Homo sapiens: one gene and its partners. The protein of the gene in region 3 purifies or fractionates together with the protein of the main gene of each other region. This does not show direct contact. Each region holds a gene or a part of one and is shown on either strand. Other genes may lie near its edges.

The links.
Region 1: the proteins of LSR (region 3) and EPS15L1 purify together in Homo sapiens (affinity purification with mass spectrometry; 2 studies listed by BioGRID and IntAct, with this or other methods). This does not show direct contact.
Region 2: the proteins of LSR (region 3) and STON2 purify together in Homo sapiens (affinity purification with mass spectrometry; 2 studies listed by BioGRID and IntAct, with this or other methods). This does not show direct contact.

Annotation. Positions count from the first base shown.
Region 1 is NC_000019.10:16,356,954-16,363,977, reverse strand, and holds part of EPS15L1 (epidermal growth factor receptor substrate 15-like 1), read left to right. Parts: intron 1-1,993; coding exon 1,994-2,199; coding exon of another isoform or gene 2,200-2,208; exon of another isoform or gene 2,209-2,400; intron 2,401-7,024.
Region 2 is NC_000014.9:81,390,308-81,397,331, reverse strand, and holds part of STON2 (stonin-2), read left to right. Parts: intron 1-1,153; coding exon 1,154-1,438; intron 1,439-7,024. UniProt on the Homo sapiens protein: Adapter protein involved in endocytic machinery. Involved in the synaptic vesicle recycling. May facilitate clathrin-coated vesicle uncoating.
Region 3 is NC_000019.10:35,258,988-35,266,011, forward strand, and holds part of LSR (lipolysis-stimulated lipoprotein receptor isoform 2 precursor), read left to right. Parts: coding exon 1-77; intron 78-83; exon of another isoform or gene 84-834; intron 835-2,011; exon of another isoform or gene 2,012-2,415; intron 2,416-2,937; coding exon 2,938-2,994; intron 2,995-3,558; coding exon 3,559-3,705; intron 3,706-7,024. UniProt on the Homo sapiens protein: Probable role in the clearance of triglyceride-rich lipoprotein from blood. Binds chylomicrons, LDL and VLDL in presence of free fatty acids and allows their subsequent uptake in the cells.

The DNA of each region.
Region 1 (7,024 bases), about 19 Mb from region 3:
ACGGGCAGAGGCGGACAGGCAGGCCGCAAGGGTGGGCTGCAGGGGAGTTTGTCTCCGAGTCCTTCTGTGCAAACCGTGGGAAGGAAGACTGTTTTTCCTTGAATATGCAAAAAGAAAGCAGCAGTCCTTATGCTGGCCCAGAACTGCCGGTTGAGAGAAAAGTGAATTTCCATTTCCAGAAGTAGGGCTACAGGCAAGGGGGGGCTACGGGCCAGGTTCTCACTGGCCTATGCTGGGCACGGCGGTGCAGGACACTGAGTGGGAGGAGACTCCTGGACCCCAGGAATGTCACCTTGTTTGGCGCCCTCCTTCTCATTTCCACTTCACAGATAAGGAAACGGAGGCCAGCTGGGAGGAGGCACTTTCCCTTGCCGAGGCCCAGAGCTAAAGGTGGCAGATGGGGGCTGTAGCCCCGGAGCCCACAAGGACACCTGGGGCCTCAAAAATGAGGCCTGGGATGGCTGATCTGCTGGGGGAACAGAGGGAAAGGCTTTAGATCTGGGCATGGAGAGGGACCGAGGCTGGCCTGTGTGGGCTCGTTCTACCGGATGAGGAAGGCAGGTGTCCCAGGCTCAGGTGGTGGGCGGGGCAGGTGTGGCTGGGAGCCAGGGTGCTCTCTGGAGGTGCAGCCAGAGATCCAAGGTCAACCCTGGAGGGACAGGCAGTTCCTGGTTTTTTCTAAACATTAGCTTCGAAACTTCCAGAGTTAACACGCCGGAATCGTGTTGCATATTATTGAGCTTCCAGTCTGGGGTGCTGCGTGGACCACGTTGAATGCCCAGGGACTCCGTTGGGCAGATAGAGGGGTGTCAGGAGCATGGAGTCAGCCCGGCTGGCCTGCAAACTGCAGATGCTGGAAGGCCCGTCAGGTGGGACCTCCCGTCACCAAGCAGATCTTAACAGGCCTCTGCTTCTTGGTGGAATGTTCTGGTACATTGGCAGGATGCACTGGGAAAAGCTACCATCCTCAGGCCATGTCCCCCACACAGTGTCATTTTCCTCCATTTCTGAACACTTCTCTCTCACCTCCCTGTCAAGATATACCTTGCTGGGACCGGGCATCCTGGAGTTCCCTGCTTGGCAGAAGCCCAGAAAGGCCCAGATAAACGCTGCCCCTTGGAGCCACCAACACCAGAGGGACAGAAGTGGGGGCTAAAAAAGAACTTAAGGCCAGGTGCAGTGGCTCATGCCTGTAATCCCAGCACTTTGGGAGGCTGAGGCGGGCAGATGACTTGAGGGCAGGAGTTTGAGGCTAGCCTGGGCAACATGGCAAAATCCCATCTCTACTAAAAATACAAAAATTAGCCACGCATGGTGGCTCATGCCTGTAGGAGGCTGAGGTGGGAGGATCGCTTGAGCCCTGGAGGCCAAGGCCGCAATAAGCCATGATTGCACCACTGCATTTCAGCCCAGGTGACAGAGCAAGACTCTGTCTCTGAAAAAAAAAAAAAAAAAAAAAAAAAAAAGAACTTAAACCTCAGCATGGCAGAGCTGTGTGCAGACCCTTATAACTAACACACCGAATAACCATACCACGTTGTGAAACTAATTCCTCCTTTTCATTTGCAAGTAACTCTCCCCTCTGCCTTTTTTTTTTTTTACTGTTAGAAGCTTGCAGTGTATTTTTCTGCTCAGCCATGATTTTTTAAATTAGTATGTTAATAAATGTGTTGCCATGCTAAAATGAATCTGTTTGAAACGTACCTGCATGCAAACTATTCTAGGACAACTCAAGTTTTAGCTGCTCTGTGTGCGTTGTGTATGGGAGTCATCTGAAGTGTTTTTCCTGTGTTGTTCACAACCCGTTAAGCCCCTGGGATAAAGCTGATTAAAACTGGGATTCCCCAGGGTACCCCCGTCCAGCCTGTTAGCCAAGTTACAAGCTTTTCTCAGAGAAGCGCCCCGGGCTTGTGCCCACCAGCATTCTGCTCTGTCCGGGTGAGTAACTCATATTTCTTTCTTTCTCCTTTTTTTTTTCTCCTAAACTTTCCAGGTAAAAGTACACCTGTAAGCCAGCTTGGTTCCGCAGACTTTCCCGAGGCCCCCGATCCATTCCAGCCACTCGGGGCTGACAGCGGCGACCCGTTCCAAAGTAAAAAGGGGTTTGGGGACCCGTTTAGTGGAAAAGACCCATTTGTCCCCTCCTCTGCAGCTAAACCTTCTAAGGCCTCTGCCTCGGGCTTTGCAGACTTCACCTCTGTAAGTTGAGTCCTCCGCCTCCGGGCCACCCCACTCCCTTCCGCTTGCAGCTTCCCTGGGATTTTTGTCTCCTTTTAAAGGCAAACCTCCCAGCTTCTTTAGCCTCTTGGTACCTCACACTCTCTGTCCCTCGCGTTATTTATTCTACACTGCCACTTCTGTAAGAAAAACAGTTTCTCAATAAAAAAAAAAAGAGCCGCAGTTTGGATGCTCTATCATAAGGGCACGTTTTCTTCCAGCAGGGAGGCGGGACCTATCTGTCCTTCACGGTAGATTCATTGTATTATTTCTGACGCACCGAGGCTGTTGTGTTCACTGGTTTTTGGAAGCCAAGATGTCAAACACTTCCGAAGTATGAAAAGAAGATTGCGAAAGTTACATTAGGGTTCTGCTGTCCCCAAAAAGCCCTTTGTGCACAAGTTCTCACAGTCCCGCCCCATGCATTTTGTGCCACAAGTGCAAATTGAAGGACTTCAGGCAGATCGCGCCAGGGAAGAGCAATTTGAAGTTTTTTTTTTTTAAAGCTTTTAAATTTCAGTTACCAGCTCCAATGAAAAAAGAAATCCAGTCTAGAACAGCCACTCTGAAAGCCAAAACAAAAAGAGCTCCAAAAAACTGTTGAGCAAAGTTAAGTGCCTTTTCGGAAGCAAATCTCGGGATTTCGAAAGCCTGGCTTTGTTTTTCTCTGTGTGAAAAAATATTCCAGATTGTAACATGCCGTCGCTTCAAGGAGTTTTTAGCAGCTTCCTTGATACATGAAAATCTTGTTCTCTGAAAGCTTCAGGTGTTGTCTTCCCAGAATTGGTTTCACTATGTGTGATGCCCTCGCTTTCTTCCTTTGGGCTTGTTAGTTCCTTCATCATTAGGTGTGAGATGTGTTATTTATAGATGCTTCGACTCCTGGGATGGCTCTTTGAACACAGCCCTGCCATGTCAATGCACAGAAAGCACCCGATTTGTTTCTGAGCCGTCTTGATAATCTCTACCGTGCACAGCTATCCTATGGCTTATTTGTCAATTTATTTATTTTAGTGACAGGGTCTCGCTGTGTTGCCCAGCCTGGTCTGCATTGGCGCGATCAGAGCTCACTTGTAACCTCGAATTCCTGGGCTCAAGCGATCCTCCTGTCTTGGCCTCCTGAGTAGCTGGGACGACAGGCGTGCAACACCACGCAAGGCTAATGTTTAATTTTTTTTTTTTGTAGAGGTAGGGTCTTGCTGTGTTGCCTGGGCTGGTCTGGAACTCCTGGCCTCAAGCGATCCTCCCACCTTGAAGTACTGGGGTTACACGTGACTGGCCCATGTGGCTTATTTAAATCGCCCAAGACCCTGACCTGTTTCTGGCTCTTGGTGACCTATAAATATTTTACAACGGCAGTGAGTTTGATTTTGTTGACCCTAGATGCGCACTGGGGGTCTATACAAAATGGTGACATTGTTAATAAAAGCCAGAAACAAAACCTGCTTTATCTAGAGTTTCTTGAATAGCCCTTCATTTATTTTCTGGTGGAAAAATATTAAACGCTGATTTAAAAAAAACAGAACTCTTCACACATGACTCAGGTACTCTGTCTTGGGTAGGGAAGAGTTAGGTAAGTGGGGTGAACGGCAGCTTGAAGAAATGACTGTTCTCTTTCTGAAATTCATAATTCTATTTCCTGTGACCCCAACCCGCAAAGGGCTCGTTTTTTCGAAAAGCATAAAAAAAAAAAAAACACCCAAGGTTTCAAGGTATCATTTGGCTTAGCATTTCTGGTAGTTCCAGAACAATTGTTAACTTCAGTTTTAAAATAGCGCCAGCCATTTTATCACCCTCATCTCCTGGTGGGAAAGCAAATTCCACCCAGGCCTGGATGCAGCCCTGTTGTTTTCTGTTTTTTTTTTTTTTTTCCCTAAGTTTTTGGTTTTTACATATTTGGAGATGAGTCTCGCTCTGTTGCCCAGGCTAGAATGCAGTGGTGCAGTCACAGCTTCACTGCAGCCTTGACCTCCTGGGCTCAAGCAATCGTCCCACCTCAGCCTCCCACGTAGCTGGGACCTCAGGCGCGCACCACCACATCTGGCTAATTTTAAAATGTTCTGATAGAGACAAGGTCTCACTTTACTACCCAGTCTGGTCTTTGAACTCTGGGCTCAAATGATCCTTCTGCCTCAGGCTCCCAAAGTGTTGGGATTACAGGCATGAGCCCCTGTGCCCGGCCTGTTTTCTGTTTAAAATCACTTTTCCCACTGCAAATACCCCAGTTTTTTTCCAGAGGAAATGATCAGATAGTGTACTTCAGCCACTCTGAAGGGATGGGTTGAGTGAAGACAGGACCCTTAATTGTTTTTGTTTGTCCCCTTGGGTCGTATCATTGTCTAAAATCATCCATAACCAGCTCTCCTCTGGGGACTCAAGATGACGTCTCTCCATGTTCACGGCATTCGGGGGCTCAGCCGATCAGCTGGTGGTTTCTGGGTTCACTGGATCTTGACTATTTGTGCTAACTTAGAAGAGGGCACAGCTGCTTCCTCTGGTTTGAATGATTCCACTTCCCTGAGCAAATGCCAAGAGGGCTGTCTGACTGCCCGGCAGATTGGCAGCGTGACTCTTTCAGCGTGGACGTTCTGAGACTGCTGTTCAGGGCATGTTTTTACCTGTGCAGGAGCAGCCCAGTCCATGCTGGCAGTCAGGGGGGCCCAGGTCACCCGCACCTCACTTGTGGAGGTGGTGCCCCGGCGGTGCCTCTCCAGAACCCTCTAATTTACAAACCCCAAATTTCCATCAATGGGTTATTTGCGTGTGTGGCTGTTCCCGGGAAACCTCTTCCCTCTCTGGTATTTCTTTAAAAGCAGGCCTTTCTGTCTCAGGCAAATGTGTGTATTAGGAAGTGGCATTTCTAGGTTAGCGGAACGGTTCTTTTGGAAGTTCGCATTAAGAGTAGTGCAAATACCAGATCAGCTAGGCCGTGCTTCGAATTATTGAAGGAGTTGGATACAATTTCATTGTCGGTAAATGAATGAATGGGAAGTGGCTAGGCATGTCCTGCACATGGTGGGGTGGAAGTGCCATCAGACACCTTGGAGCGCCAGTGAGGACAGGTGCCGGGCGCCTCCCGGGGCCATCCCATCGCCCAGCGTGCCGAGCTGTCTAAACTGCGGATTTCCAAGAGGCTGCTGAAATGAACCACTTATTTGCTTCTGAAAATGAACCCCATCCTGAGTGGGCAGGCCTCGGCTAGGGTGGTGTCATGCCCCTACGGTGTCTCGGTTCCATGGTAATGCCAGAGGGAAGCAGAAATCAGAGCCAGTGTGTTTCCCAGCCACTATTGGTTTTGCATCGGCCACAGACATCCAGATTCTGGCCCGTGTGACCCACCCAGATACGAGAACTAGAAGGTGGCCCCGTCCAGGGCTAAGACAGCAGACACAGAGGGAGCTGCGGAGTCCCCTTTCAGGAGAGCTCTCCCAGGCCTCACAGCCCAGCGTGCCTCCTAAGTGCATACAGACCTCACCAATGCAAGTCTCCACAGTGGATTCGTGAGCTGGCCTTGAACCGGTCGACTCTGAAGGCACCAGGAACTTTCCTGCTGACACCTTTCATTTGGAAACACAGACCCGTCAAGGGAAGGCGCTTCAGTGACACTGTGACACGGGGGCTCAGTGGGGCCAAAGGCGGCCAGAGGGCTGTGGTTCAGACCCAGCAGGCCGGTTACTTGGTCGTTCCAGGCTTTGATTTGGATCCAGGCGAACATTACTGTCAGCTCCCACCCACCCTGTCCTCAAGGCTGGTGGAGGGTGAGGTCCCCGTCAGCTGCACTGTCTCCCTCCCACTGTTGTCAGCAGCACCATGGAATAATTTCCACCTGCACTTGTTGGTTTTTCCTTGTTTTTCTCCCCATGAGGTGTTGGAAAATTCCCCAAACTGGGGCGGGGGGGATGCTTATCTGTGCCCCTGGCAGTGACACAATGGCGGGGAGGGAGTCCGACCTGGAGACTCATCAGACCCCCAAGTGTTTAGCTGGGCAGTGCCTCTTTAAGAAGTCAAGACTCAGCCCTTCCTCCCAGGGACATCTTTTCTTGATACTGACACTCCGCCTGTCCCCCATCTGGGTCCTGAGGCCAGCTAGAGGGAGGCCTCCAGGGCCCCGCATCCCCCTCACTGCCACATCTGCCTCCCAACCAGGTTCCTTGCATTTATCTGCTCCTGCACCTTGCCCAGTCCCCCCAGCCCTGCCATCTGGCCCTCCTCTCTCCTGCTTCCCGCTCATGCCACCATCAAGCCGTGAAATATCCAGACGCTGCCAATCTGATCACCCAACTCGCTCGCCCAAGGAGCCTCCACGGGGAAATCCCAGCTCCTTCCTGGGGCCCACGAGCCCCTCCTCAGTCTGGCTTATCCCACCCCACGCTTCATCCTGGCTACCCCAAGGTCGGGCACTGAGCCTCACACCCAGAACCTCGCAGGGACGCATCCTCCCTGTCAGTTTCACCTAGTATCCTGCTCCCCACAGGCCTGGGGGGGAAAAAGTCTAGAGTGTGAGCCACCCCTTCCCTGGCCTCAGTGTCCCCAGCTGTCAGAGGGATGAGATGACAGCGGGCCCACCCCCAGGTTGTCACGCAGACCTAGTGCTGCGTGTGGTGGAGAGGCCGTGAGTGTTCCTGTGTGCTTCTTTCCCCCACCTTCCTGGGTTAGTCTGCAGGGCCCTCCTCGAGAGCCTGGGTCCTTGGGTCCTGGATCGTTCTGGGATTGTTTGTATATTTCTGCTCCCAAGGGTGCCTGGGGAAGAGCCACTGCGCATGTTATCTTTGGTGTTACTCCAGTGTTGAGCAGAGAGCTGGTCAGA
Region 2 (7,024 bases), on a different chromosome or scaffold from region 3:
ATTTTTTTCATGTGGCTACTAGAAAATTTAAAATTACATATGTAGCTCACATTTTATTTCTGTTTGACGTGCTGTAGAGGCTTTGAATACTTGCAGATGGACCGGTTGGCTAGTGATGGGAGAAAAGATTTTATATTAATTATTTGATTAAAAACCTTTATACAGAAAAATTGACTTCTTTTGTTGTACAGCTGATGAATTTCAGCACATGTATACATTTGTGTATCTACCACCATAATCAGGATATAGTTTTTTTGTTGTTGTTGTTGTTTTGAGACGGAGTTTCGCTCTTGTTGCCCAGGCTGGAGTGCAGTGGTGCAGTCTCAGCTCACTGCAACCTCCGCCTCCTGGATTCAAGCGATTCTCCTGCCTCAGCTTCCCAAGTAGCTGGGATTACAGGCATGTGCCACCATGCCCGGCTAATTTTGTATTTTTAGTAGAGATGGGGTTTTGCCATGTTGGTCAGGCTGGTCTCGAACCGCTGACCTCAGGTGATCCACTCACCTCGGCCTCCCAAAGTGTTGGGATTATAGGCATGAGCCACTGCGCCCGGCCAGGTTTTTTAATTTCCAAAAAAAAAATTTTTGAAGGCTGTTTAATTTTCTGGGGCCAATCAAGTGATACAGTGCTGCAGAAATAACCTCTAGGTTACATTCAGCTGGTCATTAGTGCACATGGGTTTGCACCTGGTGTCCTGTGGCTGTGTATAGCTTAGACTGCAAAGAATTTGAAATTTGAATTTGAATGTCTTCAGACAGAAGTGCTCTTGTTCAGCCACAGTCCCCACCAGTCCCTTTTGCCTTTCACTTGTCTCACTTGACTCAGGTATATTTCCTACTTGACCTCTGTAAGCACTTTCCTTTGTGACCCCCAAGCACTGGAGTAGATGCTGGCATAAGAATAGTGAAGAAGGCTCCTAGTCTCTGCCTGCCAGGATACTGACTGGAGACATGCTGAGCTTACAGCATTTACACATGATTAGGGAAACAGTCATTTAACATGCAGTCAGATGGGTGTGGCTCTTTCTTCTCCCCACTCACTGCAGTGGCGAGTCATGCGGGCACCCCATGGTCATCCTTAGTTTTTGCCTCCATGAGATGGCTCTGAAGAGCGGCCTTCCTCACATGATGGTGGCGTCTGGTATCTGTTTCAGGGGGCACGGAAGAGCACCTCCCAGGACTGTCATCTTCCCCAGACCAGTCCGAGAGCTCCTCCGGGGAGAACCATGTGGTGGATGGAGGCTCTCAAGACCATTCCCACTCGGAGCAGGATGACTCCTCTGAAAAGATGGGCCTCATCTCTGAAGCAGCTTCCCCACCTGGGAGCCCTGAGCAGCCCCCACCTGACCTGGCCTCGGCCATCAGCAACTGGGTTCAGTTTGAAGATGACACACCCTGGGCCAGCACATCTCCACCTCATCAGGAAACAGCTGAGACAGGTGAGGAGGTAGGAAGGGCCCGGCTTGGGTTTGTGGTCAGCAGGGATGCTTTTCAGTGAGAGGTCTATAGGGCTGCCAGGATTCCATTTCATCTGCCCCCTAACCCTGAAGCACTGGTCGCATAGGGGAGAGCAGACGGAGTTCTCATCTGGTTTAATTCTGTAACTTGTTTTTGTTGACATAAGCATACAAAAGAATGTATGTGTTCTAGGACATTTCTAGTCCTTTACTCTTGTCCCTGGCTGTTGACTTGTCTTTAAAATAATGCATATATATTTTTCTATTAGGGATTGGAATTATATTTACTCAGCCCCTAAACTGTAAGCACCTTACATACAGAAATGAATGTTTCTGCTGGGTGCGGTGGCTCATGCCTATAATTTCATCACTTTGAGAGGCCGAGAAGGGTGGCTCACTTGAGGTCAGGAGTTTGAGACCCACCTGGCTAACACGGAGAAACCCCGTCTCTGCCAAAAATACAAAAATTAGCTGGGCGTGGTCGTGCACTTCTGTAATCCCAGCCACTCAGGAGGCTGAGGCATGTGAATTGCTGAACCTGGGAGCGGAGGTTGCAGTAAGCTGAGGTCGCGCCACTGCACTCCAGGCTGGGTGACAGAGCTAGACTCTGTCTCCAAAAAATAAAAACAGAAATGAATGTGTGTTAAAGTGTGGACCACTGACCATGTCTAACCAAGTCACCAATAGGATTTGTTAAACATGGATATTCTCACACTTCAGAACTCTTGAATCCAAATCCTCATGGGTAGGGATGGTTGTTCATGAGAAATCTCTTATTTTGTGGCATTTCAATGGCCAGAAGCTGCACTGGGGAGCTTAGTAAAGCTGTAGGACTTGTTAGTCCCCATCCTGGTGACCTGGCTACTTCTTTATTGTGCACTGAAGTATGCCACAGGTGATTGGATAAGCTTTGGGACTGTATTAGTTTTCTATTTGCTGCTGTAACAAGTCACCACAAGTGTAGTGGCTTGAACAACATAAGTTTATCATCTTATGATTCTGTATTTCAGAAGTCCATCATGGGTGTCACCGGGTCAAAATCAAGGTGTTGGCAGGGCTGTGTTCCTTTCTGGAAGCTCTAGGGGAGAGTCTGTTTCCTGGCCCTTCCCAGCTTTCAGAGGCTGTCAACATTCCTTGGCATATGGCCCCTTCCTCTATCTCCAAAGCCAGGAATGTGGCATCTCTTTGTGCCTTTCTTCTGAAGTCACATCTTTCCCTGACATCTGCCTTTGTCTTCCATTAAGGACCTCTGTGGTTATGTTGGGCTCACCAGGCATTAAGGACCTCTGTGGTTACACTGGGCTCACCGGGATAATGTCCCCATCTCAAGGTCCTTAACATAATCACATCAGTAAAGTTCTTTTGCCATATAAAGTAACATATTCACAGGTTCTGGAAATCAAGATGTGGACATCTTGGGGTAGAATGGGAGGCATTCTGTCTACCACAGAGACCTACTAGCAAAAAGCAGGGTTGATATATTTTTCTGTTGGTGTGTTAAATGTTTTGCTAGTGTCACTTTTTAAGGCTGATTCCTTTGTTTTTCAGTGTGTTTTCAATACTAAAATGATTTTAAGAAAATATAAAACAATTCTGTAACAAACATTTATATTTTTACATAATAATTTGCACATTTATGTCTATTTTTTCATATTTGAACATCAGATTTCCTTTTTTTTTTGTTTGAGATGGAGTCTTGCTCTGTTGCCCAGGCTGGAGTGCAGTGGTGCAATCTCAGCTCACTGCAACCTCTGCCCCTGAGGTTCAAGCAATTCTCAGGTCTCAGCCTCCTGAGTAGCTGGGATTACAAGCACCCATCACCATGCCTGGCTAATTTTTGTATTTTTAGTAGAGACAGGATTTTGCCATGTTGGCCAGGCTGGTTTCGAACTCCTTGACCTCAGGTGATCCACCTGCCTTAGCCTCCCAAAGTGCTGGGATTACAGGCGTGAGCCACTATGCCCAGCCTAAACATCAGATTTCTGCATGAATTGTCATTGAGTCATGACTCTCAGTGCAGCGTGGAAGAAGTGACAGGTCCAGACAGGCTTCCCTTACTGAACACCTAACACTGAGAAGGCTCTGGGCTAAGTGTTGATGCATGTAGGGAAAAGTTACGGAACACTGGGCAGTGAATGAGCACAGAAATAATGTTCCTTCTGCTTAATATGATACATTTACTGCATACTTATTGTCTCAGTTTCTGTGCTCAGTGCCTTAGCTACTTCATATCATGTACTCCTTACAACAATTGTATGAGGAAGGTATTAATATTAATCCATATTACACATGGTGGAGGAGACTCAGCCAGAAGTGGGCTTTGGGAATTCAACCAAGATTGTGTGCTAGGAAATGGCAGGAGAGCTTCCGCACCAGGCTGACCGGCCCCAAGGTCTTGGAGCAGCCTTCGGATGCCCTGTGCTCTCCTTCCGTTTGCCTCACTCTTCCTGCTGCTGCTGCTGCTGCTGCTCTAGTATCCTCTGCTCCCTCATTACCCAGGAGGCAGTGGGGGCAAGGAATGGAAGGTAAGTGATGGGTGGGGTGCTCTTTCTCCACTTTGCTGCCCTAAAATGGCCGTGCCTTCAGGTCATGGATTATATTCATGCCATTCAGATTCTTTCACATTTTATCTTTAGCCTCAAAGATTTCCTGATTGCTCAAAACTATTTATATGACAGTCAATTTGCTCAACTCTTCACTGATTTTTCCAAAACTAATTTTGAGATTAGTCATAATTATGTTGCCCCCATCTGACTGAGGATCTTATCTTGTGACTGACAATGCTTTTGATATATTGTGAAAGCTTTACCCTTTAAGGCAGCAATTCACAGTCTGGCCCATAGACCTTGCTGTCTCCTGAGACCCTTTCAAGGCGTCTTTGGGGTTAAAATCATTTTCATTCTAATTCTAAGATGTTATTTGCCTTTTCACTGCATTGACATTTGCATTGATGGTTAAAAAATAACAGCAGATGAAACTTTTGGCCATTGTCTACTCACAGTAAAACAAAATGTATATTTCACCCAATAATATCCTTGATGAGGCAGTAAAAATTATTAATTTCTTAAAATTGTGATTCTTGAGTATGTCTTTTTAACATTCTCTGTGACAGATTGGGAAAAAATACATGAAGCACTTTTGCTCCATATCAAATTGTAATAATTGTCTTGAAAAAAAAGTTTTTAAAAAAATATTTAAGAATTCAGTTTAAAAATTAAAGTTATTTTAAAATTATTTTTTAAAATCACATAATGCAAAAAATTCTTAATGAACAAAATATCAGTACTTTAAAGACAAGATTCAATTAACACTTTCATGACTATGCTACACTTGGCCCACCTGGACCTGGTGTTGCAGGAATTTTCCTAAAGTTCAGCTAAAGATGGGGTCCTTGTCCATCCCACAGCCATGAAAATTCAGGCTCACAGATGGTTTGAAGGGTAAGTAAAGCAGGGCTTTATTGGGTGAAAAGGAAAAAAGAGGGGAAACAGGGACTCTCAGCGAGGCCAGAGTTCATCTAGAGCACTTCCGGACCGCGCCCAAATCCCAGGTTCCACACAGGAAGAGGAGGGGCCAGGCTCTTCCCTGCTGCAAGTGGCACAAACTTCCGCAGCTCCACCCCAGTGCACAGGCCAGTTGGAGTTTTTCTGGGAACCCCCTCCCCTCTGGCTGTCTCACTGGTTCTAATAAAGCTTTATTTACAGAGATAGTCAACCTGTGAGCTGTAGTTTGCTGCTTTGATTTTGAGTTGATATTTTTAACATATTGCCTTAAAATGTTACTTTGATTACTGAGTTTTTTGGCACCCTCTTAAATTTTACCTCCAAGGCAAGTGTGTCACTTGCCTTAGCCTAATCTCAGCCCTGCATTGTCCTAAGAATTTTAGATGTATTAATATTACTAGAGAATAAATCAAGAAATGACAGTGTTCAAATGCATGAAAGCATAATTTTGAAAACTGCTCAAGTATGAATAATTCCATCTGTTCATATGTGTGAAAATTTAACTCAACCCTGTGGAGATGGAGTTTTCTACCTTAGGAGGGTCCTGTAGGATGGGTTCCCAGCAGACTTGATGCCCAGTCTGTAGGCAAGAAGCAGAAATAAACCATGTGGAGGGCCAGCCCCACCTCAAGAAGTGTTTCTAACCTGGAAACCCAAGGAGCATAGGGGACGGTGCACAGCATTAGAGTGGTAAAGAAAATGGTTCAATTCCAAATTTTCTGCCAATACCCAACTTGACCCATCAATGAACCTAAACTGAATCAAAAGCTGCAGAGTACATTCCTATTACCCAAACTAACCTCTCCCACATAAGCTAATTCCCTCTTGGGTTTCCTCCCATGGATTGTGTTTAACAATAAGGATAGAGTAATTGGCAGAGCTAAGGCCAATTACACAGGAGAGACTAGGCGTTAGCCCCCCACTCCTGCCCCCACATAATGGATAATGTAGACATTCCCCAAGTTACACAGTCATTCCATTCAGGAGGCTGTTGTGCAGCTCAGATTTTAATTTGAATCCAAAATGTTTGAATGCATGTGCTGTATATTGCAATAATACCACATATGTAACTGCAGGCATTATGCAGAAATAACACAGATGTTTGCAGCAAGTAGAGACAGTGTGAGACTTGCTGCAATCACTGCTACCTGCTCTGTTCTTCCAGTAATACTAAGCTGAGTAATGGCTCCCAAAGACATTAGGTTGTCCTCCCTGGAACCTATAAATATTATCATATTTGGGAAAAGGGTCTTTGTAGATGAGAGTAAGGATTTTGAGATGGGGAGATAATTCTGGATTATCTGTGGGCCTTAACTGCAATCACATGCATCCTTATGAAAGTGGCAGAGGGCGATTTTGCTTACACAGAAGAGAAGGCACTGTGAAGATGAAACAGAAAGAAATTTGAAAATGCTGATCTTAAAGATTTTAGTGATGAAGCCACAGCCAAGGAATGCCGGCAGCCACCAGAAGCTGCAAGATACAAGAAACAGATGCTTCCTTAAAGCCTCTGCGGGGAGTGCAGTTCTGCTGACATCTTGATTTTAGCACAGTGATTCTCATCTCAGACTCTGGCTTCCAGAACTGTGAGAGAATAAATTACTGTTGTTTTGAGATACCAAGTTTGTGGTAATTTGTTACAGCAGCCATAGGAAACTAATGTACTAAGTCTGTAAAATCTTAAAATGGAACCCTTTGCATAAGGCTGAGAATGAGTCAGTCTGAATTAGGGGAGCATCTGTAAATCTGTAATGATGCAGGACTTTTTGTTTGTTTGTTTGTTTGTTTGTTTTTTGTTTTGTTTTTTGAGACGGAGTCTCGCTCTGTTGCCCAGGCTCTGGAGTGCAGTGGCGCGATCCCAGCTCACGATGCAGGGTATTTCTTAAGGAGATGTGTGCATGTCAGTGTGCTTTGTCCCTAAACCTTACAGCTCCTTATAATTTACTCATTGAGTCACCAGATATTTACTAAGCACTTCCTCTGTATAGTTCTGCTAGGTGTGGATATTCAAAGACATAGCGCAGTGCTCAGAATTGAGCAGAAATCCACTGGGCTTCTTCCTGGA
Region 3 (7,024 bases):
TGTGTATTACTGCTCCGTGGTCTCAGCCCAGGACCTCCAGGGGAACAATGAGGCCTACGCAGAGCTCATCGTCCTTGGTGAGTGGGCCTGGGAAGGGGGAGGCATGGCCCTTCCTTTTGTCCGCTTCTGTTCTGTCTGCCCTCCCCTGTGTCCGCCCTCTGCCCTCCAGCTTACCCTCTGGGCTCTGTCGCCTGCTCTGCTCTCCCCCAGGCTCTGCCAGTCACTTAGGCTCCCCTGTGCCCTGCACCCCAGGCAGGGACCACTGGCCCACAGTGCCTCCAATCACCCAAGCCAAACTAAGAGAAGAGTGGAGACAATTGGAGACTCTGCCTTTTCAAAGTCTCATTTTTAAAAAAAATCCAGACTTGGGGTCCGGGTGCGGTAGTTCATGCCTGTAATCCCAGCACTTTGGGAGGCCGAGGCGGGTGGATCACTTGAGGCCAGGAGTTCGAGACTAGCCTGGCCAACGTGGCAAAATCCCGTCTCTATAAAAAATATAAAAGCCAGGCGTGGTGGTGCACATGCCTGTAATCCCAGTTACTCAGAAGGCTGAGGCATGAGGATTGCTTGAACCTGGGAGGCAGAGGATGCAGTAAGCCAAGATCAAGCCACTGCACTCCAGCCTGGGCGACAGAGTGAGACTCTGTCCAAAAAAAAAAAAAATCCAGACGTGGTCAGAGTCCATGGGCAGTGAATGAGGACAGTTGATGGTGTGCAAAATCGACCCACCTCTTGCTACATCCCCAAGGCCTCATCTCACCCGAGTCCCTCGCCAAAGCACAGCGGTTTTGCCGTGTGCCCTGCTGGGATGGCGCTGCATGGCACACACACTGTGTAAGTTTGAGTGCAGCTGAAACGAAGCCGATTCCAGACACCCAGGGGCAGGGCGGGGTGTCCGTGTGGCTGGGAGGCCTCCTTGTGTTAGGGGGATGTTGCCATCGGCCAGGTGCCCTGCTGTAAGCCAACACATGGAGTCTTGTATGACATGTGCTCTGCATGAGTGATGCCGCTGGGCTGTACACTGCCATCTTCACATGTGTGAATGAGCACGTGACTGGGGGGTACTTGGGCTGCAAGACAGAGTTCATGTGTGGGGGATGGAACACGTGCACCAGTGACCCAGGAACCTCTGCCTGTTCTTCGGTAAAATGCACCATTTGCATCAGCAGTTCCCAAAATTAGTCTCCAGGTCTATTTACACTCTAAAACATTATCGAGGGTCTCCAAGAGCTTTTGTTTGTTTCTGTGGGTTTTATGTCTATCTGTTGCTTAACATATTAGGAATTAAAATGGGGAGATTTTCCTTTTTTTTTTTTTTTTTTGAGATGGAGTCTCGTTCTGTCGCCCAGGCTGGAGTGCAGTGGCTCGATCTCGGCTCACTGCAAGCTTCACCTCCTGGGTTCACGCCATTCTCCTGCCTCAGCCTCCCAGGTAGCTGGGACTACAGGCACCCGCCACCACACCCGGCTAATTTTTTTTGTATTTTTAGTAGAGACTGGGTTTCACCATGTTAGCCAGGATGGTCTCGATCTCCTGACCTCGTGATCCACCCACCTGGGCCTCCCAAAGTGCTGGGATTACAGGCATGAGCCACTGCCCGGCCTTAAAATGGGGAGATTTTTCAAGCCCAAGATACACAAGGAAGACTGGGCAACATGGCAAGACCCTGACTCTACAAAAAATTTTAAAATTAACCAGGCATGGTGGCATGCACCTGTGAGCCCAGCTTCTTGGGAGGCTGAGGCAGGAGTATCGCTTGCACCCAGGAGGTCAAGGCTGCAGTGAGCCGTGACTATGCTACTGCACTCTAGCATGAGTGACAGAGACCCTGGCTCAAGAAACACAAACACACACACACACACACACACGCATATAGTCCATTAGGCATCAGGGCGATGATGGCATCAGGGAGCCTGGGAAACTCTACTGGACATTCATGGGAGAACAAGTGAAAAAGGCAAATAACATCTTAGTGTTATTCTAAAATTTCTTCTTTTGGCCTTGTGGACAGGACCACGCTTTGAGAGCTGTGACTGACATGCCTCTGTCCTGTTGCGAGGGCCTATAGTGCCAAGTGCATGAGCTCTGGGGAGGGCTTCGTGGGTGCAGAGCTGGGCCTGTGGAGGCCCCTCAGACACAACACTGGTGGGGCTCAGAGCTCCAGGGGCACTCGAGGGAAGACAAGAACCGGCTCTGAGATGCGTGAATGTGACAGTGCATGAGTAGAGATGGAGACCTTGTGGGTCCCAGAACCAGGACTGCATATGACTTTCATATGTGGGTATTTTTGCCTTCATGGGTCCCTTCCTGTTTTAAAAAAAATGTGTGATTATGTTGTCACAAAGAGTTTATTCCTGTATATTGTGTTAATTTGTGTTCAGATTTGTAAAGTAAAATTAAACCATTTCAGCCAGGTGTGGTGACACATGCCTGTAGCCCTAGCTACTTACCCCAGAGGCTGAGGTGGGAGGATCGCCTGAGCCCACGAGGTTGAAGCTGCAGTGAGCCATGATCACACCCCTGCACTCCAGACTGGGCGACAGAGCTGAGATCCTATTTCGTGGGCCCTAGGTCCCTGTGCCTGCTGGAACAGGACATCCCTATCACCGTGGTTGGAGCCCTTTGGGGTGCTAAGACCTATGAATGAGGGAAACTTAGGGTGCCCAAGCTGAGGTAGAGCCCTCAGAACCCCCTGGGATTTGTATTGGAGCCCTCGTGGCATAACACAGGTGGATTATGCAATGGGAGTTTCTTACCTATAAGCACCCACATGTGGGCGGGTGGAGGGTAGGAGCCATGCACTAGGGCTTCAGCCCCCAGCCCCTTCCCGCTTCAGGGCACACCTTGCACTTGGCCAGCCTGGAGCTGGGCTTTCGGGGGTGGCACAGCCTGGGCTGGCTCTGGCCAGCATAATCTGTTTCTCTTTTGTCCCTCCAGGGAGGACCTCAGGGGTGGCTGAGCTCTTACCTGGTTTTCAGGCGGGGCCCATAGAAGGTACGGGGGGTGGATCCTGAGTTGGGCTTCTCGGGAGCTCCCATACATCACCTACTGCTTCTGACTCTAGTTAGTATCCCCTTCCCCACTAAACCCTGCTCACTGTGGACCCCTCACTAACCTGGCCTGACTGTGGCTCTGAGGCATCTAGTGGTCTGGCGCTGGGCCTAGGCTAGGCTGGGCTGAGGAGAGCCTGGGGTGCAGGCCAGGGCTCTGTGACTGGCACCTGCGGTGCTCTTGAGGGTGTGGCGTCTGGGCAGCTGGCTCTCTCTTTGGTCTGGGGGCTGCAGTCTGTCTCCCTCTGTGCAGGCTGCCTCGTTTTCTGCCTTGTGTTTTTTGCACCTGGGGGAGGGCCGTAACTGGGGAATGGCCGGGATGGTAGAATGGGGAGTGTGCTGTGCCCAGCCTCTGGCACAAAAAATCCAGCCAGGGCTGCAGGTTCCTTGGTGAGCTTTGCAAATCGTCCCCGACCTCAGTGCTGGCTCCGCACCATGTACCCCTGCTGTGCCGTTAGCCCTGTTCCCTCCCAGGCCTCCGGGCTCAGGGCCTGTTGTCTTTCTGCAGACTGGCTCTTCGTGGTTGTGGTATGCCTGGCTGCCTTCCTCATCTTCCTCCTCCTGGGCATCTGCTGGTGCCAGTGCTGCCCGCACACTTGCTGCTGCTACGTCAGGTGCCCCTGCTGCCCAGACAAGTGCTGCTGCCCCGAGGCCCGTAAGTGTCCCGCTCATGGCCACCCTGGTTTGGGCAACATCCTGCATCCAAGGGAAGGAGGTGGCCATCCACCTGCCCCCAGGACAGTGGCGTTGGTCTGGAGGGTGTGAATTTAGCCAGTGGGGAGAAAGTAGGCTGAGGAGGGTCTGCTGTTTAGATTGTCGTTTACTTCCTCCAACTTTTAGTTTATTTTTATTTATGTTGTTCTTTTCTTTTGTAAGTATAATCCATACACATGGTAAAAATGTCCAACAGTACAAGATACTAGTCACATGGAAGTAAAGCCCTCTAAAAAAACCAAATCTTGGCTAGGCGCAGTGATTACGCCTGTAATCCCAGCACTTTGGGAGGCCAAGACGAGTGGATCACTTGAGGTCAGGAGTTCCAGATCAGCCTGGCCAACATGGTAAAACCCAGTTCTCTACTAAAAATACAAAAATTAGCTGGGCATGGTGGTGATCGCCTGTAATCCCAGCTACTCAGGAGACTGAGGCATGAGAATCGCTTAAACCCAAGAAGTGGAGGTTGCAGTGAGCTGAGATCACGCCACTGCACTCCAGCCTGGGCGACAGAGTGAGACTCTGTCTCAAAAAAAAAAGAAAAAAAAATGTTAAGTGAAAAAGTTAAGAAACCAAACAAGGTTTACAACACTACATGATTTAAGCAAAAAAAATTTTTTTTGTTTTAGAGAAAGGGTCTCATTCTGTCATCCAGGCAGTGCAGTGCGATCATAGCTCTCTGCAGCCTCAAACTCCCGGGTTCAAGCAGTCCTCCCGCCTCAGCCTCTGGAGCAGCTGGGACTGTAGGCACACACCACCATGCCCAGCTAATTTTTTGATTTTTGTTTTTTGTAGAGACGGGGTCTCAGTATGTTGCCCAGCCTGATCTCAAACTCCTGGCCTCAGGTGATCCTCCCAAGTCAGCCTCCCCAAAGTGCTGGGATTACAGGCATGTGCCACCATGCTGGCCAATTTTTAAAAATTTTCTGTAGAGACAGGGTCTTGCTATGTTGCCCAGGCTGGTCTTGAACTCTTGACCTCAAGTGATCCTGCCTCAGGCTCCCAAAGTGATGGGATTACAGGCATGAACTACCACACCTGGCCTTAAACTTAAGCAAATTTTTTTTTTTTTTTGGAGACAGTTTCACTCTGTCGCCCAGGCTGGAGTAAAGTGGCGTGATCTCTGCTCACTGCAACCTCCGCCCCCCGGGTTTAAGCTATTCTCCTGCCTCAGCCTCCCGAGTAGCTGGGATATAGGCGCCTGCCACCACGCCTGACTAATTTTTGTATTTTTAGTAGAGACGGGGTTTTGCCATGTTGGCCAGGCTGGTCTCGAACTCCTGACCTCAGGCAGTCCGCTCCCCCGCACCCCTACCTTGGCCTCCCAAAGTGTTAGGACTACAGGTGTGAGCCACCATGCCTGGCCAAATTTAAGCAAATGTTTGAAAACACATACCCACAGGAATGCTGCACATTTTACCCAGCTACTATGTCTAGGGTCGTATCTAGCACACCAGCATGGCTACTGTGGAGAGCTGGGACTGGATGTGAGATGAGAGCTAAAGGGGAAGTAAGCAAACCAAGCAGGGGAAGGTAAGAGAAGACAGAAGACAGAGAGAGAGGGACCTAACTCTATGAGAGGAGTCAGACATGTGCAATTGAAAAAGACTTGCTCCTGTCTCTCTTCTGTGAATGTTTGTGAATATCCCAACGGGACACTTTCACAGAGGAGCTGATTGACGTGGTCACAGCCATCAGCCTTGGGACACCAGACCACAGTGTGTACACTAAGTGGCACTGATGGACACTTCAGCATCCCTCTAGCTGCTGTCCCGTTTCCCCTCCTCGGGGACCACAGCTGTTGCCAGTCCTTGGTTTCCTTCAGGAGGGTGTCTGGGTAGACCAGCCTGTGTGCACACAGTCCAAGATACATGAACAGTGAAGTGCCAGGCAATCCTTGCAAGCATGGGCAGGTGGAGAGCTGAGGCCTGCTTGACACCTTCCTGCTCAGAAGCCCAGTGAGCAGTTTCCCTCCCTAGGGCTCAGTGTCATCCCCTATAAAATGGGGCTTATGGCAGAGCTCACCACACTGGGTGCATCTGGGGATTTGGCGAGCTCATGTGCACACCATTGAGCATGGGGCCCAACCTATATAAAATATTCTACGTCTGTCAGCTGCTGGGCACTGCCACTATCAGCCTCAGTAGTGACTGAGGGACAGGGCACCAGTCAGAGCCCTGGTGCACACAGAGTGACCCCAGAGAAGCAGCCTTCCCTCTCTGAGTCCTGTTTCCTTCTGTTAGGTCCTGACTTCATGGGTTGTTGTTAGCATTAAGGAAGTCGCTGGCTAATTTTATAGTCATTGAAGTCAGTGGTGTGCAACCTGGTTCCTCAAAGGATCACTTCCCTGAAAAAATTCCACTGCTCCCTGGAGGCTTATGCAGGCCATCCCATCCCCTCCCTCTTGTTGTGTTCAGCTGACAGCTTTTTGCTCAGTGAGTAAGTGTTAGGTCCATTTCACAGATGGGCTGCAACCAAGTTTGCAGTGAACCCACTAAGACCAGAGCTAGGGCCAGGACTAAATGCTGGTCCCAATGCCACATTCCCCTGTCCCCACACCACATTTCCTCCATCCGGAGACCCTGTTACCCCAACCCAGGGCCCCATTAACTCCCTGGCAGAGGCCCTGTTACATCTGCTGCTGCCACAGCCTCCGCCCACCCTTCAGGAGGCAGCAGGTCCCACTGCTGATGATAAAGTTGCAGGCTGCCTGAGCTAATGAAGGGGCTTCCTCTAGGCTGTGCACTTAGTCTTCTGCTTCCAAACCAAATCAGAGGTGAGGCACCCTCTCTGGGCCCATCTCTCTCCTCCATTTTCCTGTTGGGGTCCCAGGGAGGAAGCCACTTGCCTAGGGCCCAGGAATTTTGCAAGCCTCTTGCCCTAGGGAGGAAGGAAGGGAGGAGGATCTTACCTTGAACTGTCAAGCCTAGAGCCTGGTGGGGCAGGCAGAAATGGGTGCAGTCCATGAGTTAGAAACACTAGAGGAGACACTTTGCTGCTTGGCCGGGGCAGGCAAGTTAATTCCCGAGGCTCCTGCCACTGCATCTCAATCTGGAAGGTGACCAGGTGGGCAGGACCCACGTCTCCCAGATGACTCATTTTTTCTAGAACAGGGGCTTGGCTGCCAAAGAGGATACTTGATTTCGGCTTGTGGGGACAGTGGTGGACCCAGCATCTGGGCTTTATATAAAGGGCAGCTTTGTTGCCCTGTAAACACACAGACCATGGGTGGCCACTTCTTCCAGTAAGTTAGCTGGGGA